Homo sapiens: one gene and its partner. The protein of the gene in region 2 interacts with the protein of the main gene of each other region in a pairwise test. Each region holds a gene or a part of one and is shown on either strand. Other genes may lie near its edges. The genes, in order: SLU7 and PPIL3.

The links.
Region 1: the proteins of PPIL3 (region 2) and SLU7 interact in binary tests that used the Homo sapiens proteins (3 or more experiments, as listed by UniProt).

Annotation. Positions count from the first base shown.
Region 1 is NC_000005.10:160,405,551-160,409,375, forward strand, and holds part of SLU7 (pre-mRNA-splicing factor SLU7), read right to left. Parts: intron 3,148-3,825; coding exon 3,100-3,147; intron 2,911-3,099; coding exon 2,779-2,910; intron 2,519-2,778; coding exon 2,421-2,518; intron 2,264-2,420; coding exon 2,196-2,263; intron 2,066-2,195; coding exon 1,926-2,065; intron 1,080-1,925; coding exon 918-1,079; intron 1-917. UniProt on the Homo sapiens protein: Required for pre-mRNA splicing as component of the spliceosome. Participates in the second catalytic step of pre-mRNA splicing, when the free hydroxyl group of exon I attacks the 3'-splice site to generate spliced mRNA and the excised lariat intron.
Region 2 is NC_000002.12:200,882,253-200,886,077, forward strand, and holds part of PPIL3 (peptidyl-prolyl cis-trans isomerase-like 3), read right to left. Parts: intron 3,521-3,825; coding exon 3,446-3,520; intron 3,116-3,445; coding exon of another isoform or gene 3,010-3,115; intron 184-3,009; coding exon 90-183; intron 1-89. UniProt on the Homo sapiens protein: PPIases accelerate the folding of proteins. It catalyzes the cis-trans isomerization of proline imidic peptide bonds in oligopeptides. May be involved in pre-mRNA splicing.

The DNA of each region.
Region 1 (3,825 bases), on a different chromosome or scaffold from region 2:
AGTTAGGTTTTTGACCCTCAACTAAGAGAGACAATTGTAGTTTGGTTACTTCAAGAGAACAGCAAAGGACAATATATGCTTTATGATGTTTACAATGCAATATGAATATACTACATTACTTATTAAATATTCTTGTCAAAATATTTAACTTATATCCAATCAAGCCGTTAGACCTAAATTCCTATTTATAAAACATACAGGGATAGAGAAACAAGTTATATAACACTACTAGGAACCAGTCAATACAGAATATGAGACAATTTACAAACTAATTGGCCTAATCTGTTAAATGGTCACCGTCATGAAAATGAAGAGATACACTCTAGAAAAGAGACATAATAACCGCATAACGATCAAAAGAAATTTGAAACGAATTCTGACTAAAACAAAAAATAGGTGTTAAAGGCATTTTTCTGTATATTTTGGAAAATGTGATTAATGACTAGATATTAGGTGATATAATGTTAATTTTCTGAAGTGCAATAATGTCGATGTGGTTATATAGAAGAAAATCCTCATTTTAAGGAGATATGTGATACAGCGTTTATGGATAAAATGTCATGATATACATAATTTCCAAATGTTTCAGTCAAATAAATATATACATAAACTATATGTGTGTATATATGTGTATTTTACATATATATGTAAAACTGTGCATATGCACACATACAACTAGACAAAGCATATAAGGCAATATGTTAAAAATTTCAGAATTTAGATGATGGGTATATAGATGAACATAGTATTCCTTCAAAATTTTTCTATTTTTGAAAAAATTCCATGAAACAGTTAAAATTTTTTTTTTTTTTTAAAGCATAGAGAATACAAATGGTTAGCTAATAAAGTTGTAGTGGAAAAATGCAATACAGAGCAAAACCAACAAGGACACAAAATTGTTCCAGTTTAGCACATACTGTGTGATTGTGGATCTTCACATCCTCCTCATACTTAGAGCAGGCAACAGCCCGCTCCTGTCCTTTGATGACTGTCCCATGTCTTGAGTACTCCACATAGTCTTCAGTCTGGGCTAAAAGCAATTCAGCTGGAGGGGCATCCAAATGTTCTTGGCCACCATACTAAAAGGACATTGGACATTATTCAATACATTTTACAACCTGATTTGCATTTAAATTTCCAGAAAACATTTATTTCTAATCAGAAAGAAAGGGAACATTCTTTACTGGGTTTTGTTATAGAAAGCACAGTAGGAAAAAAAAAGCCACAAATTTTTTCTGAGGCAAATAGAAGATGTCTCAGTTGCTATTCATCTGTTGAGTACAGTAAGTTACAAGATGGCCATAAATTCCTCTTATCTTTCTATACATGCCCTTTTGCCACAGGGCTTTGCTTTTCTTCCCATCAAGAGACGAAGTCTTTCTCTGTCCCTTGAATCTGGGCCTGACCATGTTATTTGCTTTGACCAATGAAAGTTGGCAAATGTGATGCAAGCAAAGGCACTTATGTACCACAGCACACTTTTTGCTGCCACTCTCTAGAACTCTGAGAATGCCATTTTAAAAAGCTGTGCTACCCTACTAGAGGATGAAAGACCACATGGGGTGGAGATGAGCTGTCCCAGAAGAGGTCCCCTTAGGACAATTAGCCTGTTAACTGCTAAACACAAGAGTGAGGCCATCTTAGTTCATCATCTAACCTCAGCTGAGCAAGCCCAGACCAGGAGACTTGGCCAACTGTGAGAAACAATAAATGTTTATTTTAAGCTATTAAGATTTGAGGTAGCTTGTTTTGCTGCAAAAGCTCATACAAAATTACCATCTGACTAAGAGAAAGGAAGAAAAGGACTATTCTTCATGGATTAAGAGGGCTCTCTTTGCATTATTTTCCAAATGTAAAACTAACGCTTATTAACTAGTAACTTCTCTTTAACAGAAGTTCTTCTTTAGCATTTTGGTCAAAATTACCTTTTCCAGGATGCTTTCTTTCTGCTGTTCTTTGAAATCTTCTTTTTTGACTTTGAAGGACTTATACAACAGCTCTAGCTTTGTAGGATCTGCCTGTAGATGCACTTCAGATCCCTTGTCATAGGCTTCCCATGCAAACACTAGAGTAATTCAAAACATCTTAGTGAGTTGGCAGCTGCATTACTGTATGCTTCTTGAAAACAAGCTTTAAACAATCCCAAACGTCTTATGAGCTGATATAAAATGGCTTGACATAGAGGAAACACTTACACTGTGTCTGAGCCATTGAAATGGTATCTCCTGTGTACCTAACAAAGTTATCTCCAGCATAACTCACTCTGTAAATACAAATAAAGAAAATGTTTCAGAGATTGATTTAAGGAAAATTAATTCGTAAAACTGAATCTGAATTAAAATGAACACCATCTATGGTCAGGTCAGAAAACAATTAACTTTCTCTCATCTTAAAATCTGTACATTTAACTTGATACTTACTCATCTGGATTCTTTCCTGCATTGGCATAAGGATTCTCTCTCATTGCTCTAGTTTTTGGATCATAGTAGGCAGAATTTGGATCTAAATTCCTCAAATACTAGAAGAAAAAAATATTTAAAGAATTAATGTTTACTCACAGCAAAAAGATTTCAGCAGACTAGTTGGAGGAGTTGAACATGATCAATTAAATAAATGTGTGTATACATTTCTGGGGTTCAGGTGAAGAGAAAAAACAGAATGAAACCTTATCTTAGAATGACTCTGACTATATTATCCATATGCTACCCAGAGTCGATAAAATTTATGCTGGGAAGACAAGTATTTTTCAAATATGTATGTTAAGCTGACAAGACTTACTTTTGCAATATCTTCTCGAATCCTGAGATTCCGGACAGTAATTCGTCTCTTGGAGTCAAAATTCTGTCCAGGCATGTCAATATCATCTGCATATTTATCTTCATCCTCATCTTCACTATTATGATCTTTTTCCTAAAAGAGGGAGAGGAAGGAAAAGTAAGAAGAAAAGAAAGCAGCATGTAGTTCTTTTTTTTCCCCTTTCCCTTTAACCAAACCCTTATTTACTTGTGTTCTTTAAAAGCTATTATTAGTGTTATTTATTATTAGCCATCAGAAATTTAAAAATTTAACATATACTCAGAGACAGCAAATATGTATTACCATCTGAGAATTTGGTTCCTCTTCTCCCCACTGGTGTTTTGGAGAATTCTGCATCATGAAAGAAGAAAAATCATTCATAATCTCATTCCACTTAATCCAATTAACTTTATTATTAAGATAATAAAGTATTATTATCTTATTATAAATAATATATTTATATAATAAAATATATTTTATTATATATTATATTTATATTATATATAATAAATATTTATTATATAATATATAATATGTAACTTATAAATAAGTATTAAGATAATAAAACTTAATTCTAACTGAACAAACTCTCACACTTCTCAGTTATAATGAGCGCAAAAATTCTGAATACAAGAGTGCCATTGTAAATAATTTTATTACACTGTCTATAAAGCCAGCAAATTTCAAGAGAATTTTAATTAAGATTATAACCACAAAATGGTAACAGAAAGATTAAGATGTCCAAAGTACCCAATAAATATTAATTTCTAAATGTGTTAGTCTTCAGACATACTGTATTCATTAAACGTTACTAGTTTCCTAGTAAGTCCAAAAAGAAAATATTACTGGGTTCATGTCTTCACAGCCAAAGTGAAGTTTGGGCAATGAAAAAAATCTACAAGTGACACAGTATTGTAATTTAAGGAGAGGCCAAACTCCTTGTCACAAGGATACACTTTTCTTCGCTAGCAATTGGTCAGAATACTTTCTAACTCCACAGAATGCCTACACTAACGTGGTATTTCATCA
Region 2 (3,825 bases):
AAACTCCACGTATTTAATTCCTCTTCTTTTACCCACTTCTTCATACTATACATTCAGTTCCTTAGATCTTGGTTAATGGAATAACTTACCTGTTGGATCTCCTGTTTGAACCATGAAACCCTTGATATTCCTATGAAATATACAGCCATTGTAGTAATTACTGGCACAAAGAGCCAAGAAATTCTGAAGGGAGTAAAAATGATTGAGAAATGATGCAGCAGAAACCCAGTTAAGACAAAAAACCAATCATATTTACTGAAAACGTGATAGCAGCATATTTAAACTATGACTGTTGTCATTACTTTGGATGTCATTTCCCTGCCTACAACACTTCAATAGCTTCCTTCTCCTCTTGAAATAAAATACAAAATCTTTCGCCGGGCATGGTGGCTAACGCCGGTAATCCCAGCACTTTGGGAGGCCGAGGTGGGTGGATCACGAGGTCAGAAGATCGAGACCATCCTGGCTATGGTGAAACCCCATCTCTACTAAAAATACAAAAAATTAGCTGGGTGTGGTGGCAGGCGCCTCCAACTACTCTGGAGGCTGAGGGAGGAGAATGGCGTGAACTTGGGAGGCGGAGGTTGCAGTGAGCCGAGATCGCACCACTGCACTCCAGCCCGGGCGACAGAGACTCCGTCTCAAAAAAAAAAAAAAACAACCAAAAACAAAAAGAAAATCTTCAGCAGGGCCTAACAAGCCCTGCAGTACCTGGCTCATCTCCTCATCACATATACTAAGAACTGCTTTCTTGTTGCTTACTACCTAAACTCCATCAGCATTCTGACAATTAATCCAAAAGGGGCAGCTTTTCTTACCTGGGGTACTCTGTACCTGAGATTTCTATATCTGGAATGTTCTTTTTTTTTTTTTTTTTTTTTTGTAGAGACAGTGTCTCCCTATGTTGCCCAGGCTGGTCTTGAACTCCTGAGCTCAAATGATTCTCCTGCCTCAGCCACCCGAAGTGCTGGAATTACAGGTGTGAGCCACCGTGCCTGGTCTTGGAATTTTTTAAAATTTTATTTCACAACCTTTTCTGAATCTGAATACCTGGAATATTCTTTCTATACCTCTTTCCATGGAGATGCCCTCATACCTTTGCATTTAATTTAAGTATTAGTTTATTGGCTACACCTGCCCTCACCTTCTTCCTTTCCCATTATTCTCTATCTCAACACTTAATTTTTTTCAAGGCATTATCATCTTTTAGAATTACTTAATTTTAGGCCAGGCACAGCAGCTCACACCTGTAATCTCAGCACTTTGGGAGGCAGGAAGATCACTTGAGTCCAGGAGTTCAAGACCAGCCTGGGCAACATAGTAAGACCTCATCTCTATCTTTAAAAAAAAAATAAATAAATGAAAATAATTTCTTAAAAATATAATTACTTAATTTTCCTGCCCTGCTTATTTTTACAACTAAAATATTGGCTCCATGAGGGTAAGGAATGTCTGTTGCTCATCACTGTATCTCCAGACTCTGGGGCAAGATAGCCTTTCACGAATAATGGGTTTCTTGTTTCGTTTTGAGACAGGGTCTTGCTCTGTCACCTAGGCTGGAGTGCAGCAGTGTGATCAGAGCTCACTACAGTCTTGACCTCCTAGGCTCAAGCAATTCTCCCACCTTGGCCTCCCTTGTAGCTGGGACAACAGGGTCACACCACAACATCTGGCTAATTTTTGTATTGTTTTGTAGAGATGGGGGTCTCACTATATTGCCTAGGTAAGCCTAGAACTTCTGAGCTCACCTTAGCCTCCCAAAGTGCTGGAATTATAGATGTGAGCCACCATGCCCAGCCATAAATAATTGCTGAATAAATGAATATATACAGGTGACTCTTCTTCCTTCCATCCTTGTCATTTAAACAGGTGACACAGGCCGGGTGCAGTGGCTTTGGGCAGCACTTTGGGCAGCCAAGACGGGTGGATCACCTGAGGTCAGGAGTTTGAGACCAGCCTGATCAACATGGTGAAACCCCATCTCTACTAAAAATACAAAATTAGCTGGGCATGGTGGCTGGCGCCTATAGTCCCAGCTACTTGGGAGGCTGAGGCAGGAGAATCCCTTGGACCTGGGTGGCGGAGGTTGCAGTGACCCAAGATTGGGCCACTGCACTCCAGCCTGGGCAACAAGAGCAAAACTCTGTCTCAAAATAAATAAATAAATAAATAAAAATAAACAGGCGAAATAATGTATAGAACAGGCCAGGCATGGTGGCTCACGCCTATAATTCCAATACTTCAGGAAGCTGAGATGGGACGATGGCTGGAGACCAGGAGTTCGAGACCAAGTTGGGCAACATAGTGAGATCTCGTCTCCATAAAAATTTAAAAAAAATTAGCCTGGCATGGTGGCACACGCCTGTAGTCCTATCTACTTGGGAGGCCAAGGTGGGAGGATTGCTTGAGCCCAGGAGGTTGAGGCTGCAATGAGCCGTGATTGCACCACTGCACTCCAGTCTGAGCGACAGAGCAAGACCCTGTCTCAAAAAAAAAAAAAGTATACAACAATTCTTTAATATAATATCCTGCCGGGCATGGAGGCTCATGCCTATAATCCCAACACTTTGGGAGGCTGAGGCAGGCGGGTTACCTGAGGTCAGAAGTTTGAGACCAGCCTGGTCAACATGGTGAAACCCCGTCTCTACTAAAAAAATATAAAAATTAGCTGGGCATGGTGGTGGGTGCCTGTAATCCCAGGTACTTGGGAGGCTGAGGCAGGAGAATCGTTTGAACCCCAGAGGCGAAGGTTGCAGTGAGCCAAGATCATGCCACTGCACTCCAGCCTGGGTGACAGAGCAAGACTCCGTCTTGAGAAAAAAAAAAAAAAAAAAAAGGCCAGGTGCAGTGGCTCATGCTTGTAATCCCAGCACTTTGGGAGGCTGAGGTGCATGGATCACCTGAGGTTAGAAGTTTGAGACCAGCCTGACCAACATGGTGAAACCCTGTCTCTACTAAAAATACAAAAATTAGCCAGGCATGGTGGCGCACGCCTGTAATCCCACTTACTCGGGAGGCTGAGGCAGAAGACTTGCTTGAACCCAGGAGGCGGAGGTTGCAGTGAGCCGAGATCGCGCCATTGTACTCCAGCCTGGGGGACACAGCGAGACTCCATCTCAAAAAAAAATAATAATAAATAAATAAAAAAAAAGAAAGAAAAAAGTAATATAATGTCCTAATGATTACGTTTCCTGAAGAAAATTAGTTCAAAAGAAAAAGATACTGGCTACTCTATCGTTACCGAAAAATTATCTACGTTCTCTTTGATCCACCTTTGACATTGGACAAATAAGTGGAAATCAGGCCAGAAGTTAGGATGGCTAGTTTTCCCTAACAATGGTTTTACAGAAAGTTTTGTTGTTGTTATTTAGGTTAGATTATTCAATTCCAAAGTGCTTATCTTGTTGTATTAACTGATGTTGAATATGTAAATAATAGTACTTACCTCACATGTTTTGGGTGTCCTCTCACAGAAGACTTCAATTTTAATATCACCTACATCTGTATGCAGTGTCACAGACTAAAAAGGAGAGAAAATGTGAGAACAAATGAAATTTATTTAGGTGACTTTATGCATTGTTTATTTCCCTGTGTGGATATTCAAGATGATAATCTGAATAAAAACAGACAGAAATACTGCTTCAGAGATGACCCATCCACAAAGCAGCTCTTAGAGGTTAAGTTGTACTTTTTTCTCAAAATTGATCCCAACAGTAGAGAAAAAACTCCAGAATATAAATGTTAGGGTTAAGTAGTATCCATGACAAAAATTTGGAAGTAAATATTTTGATGGAAAGAATTATTTTAACTTTGAATTTTTTATCA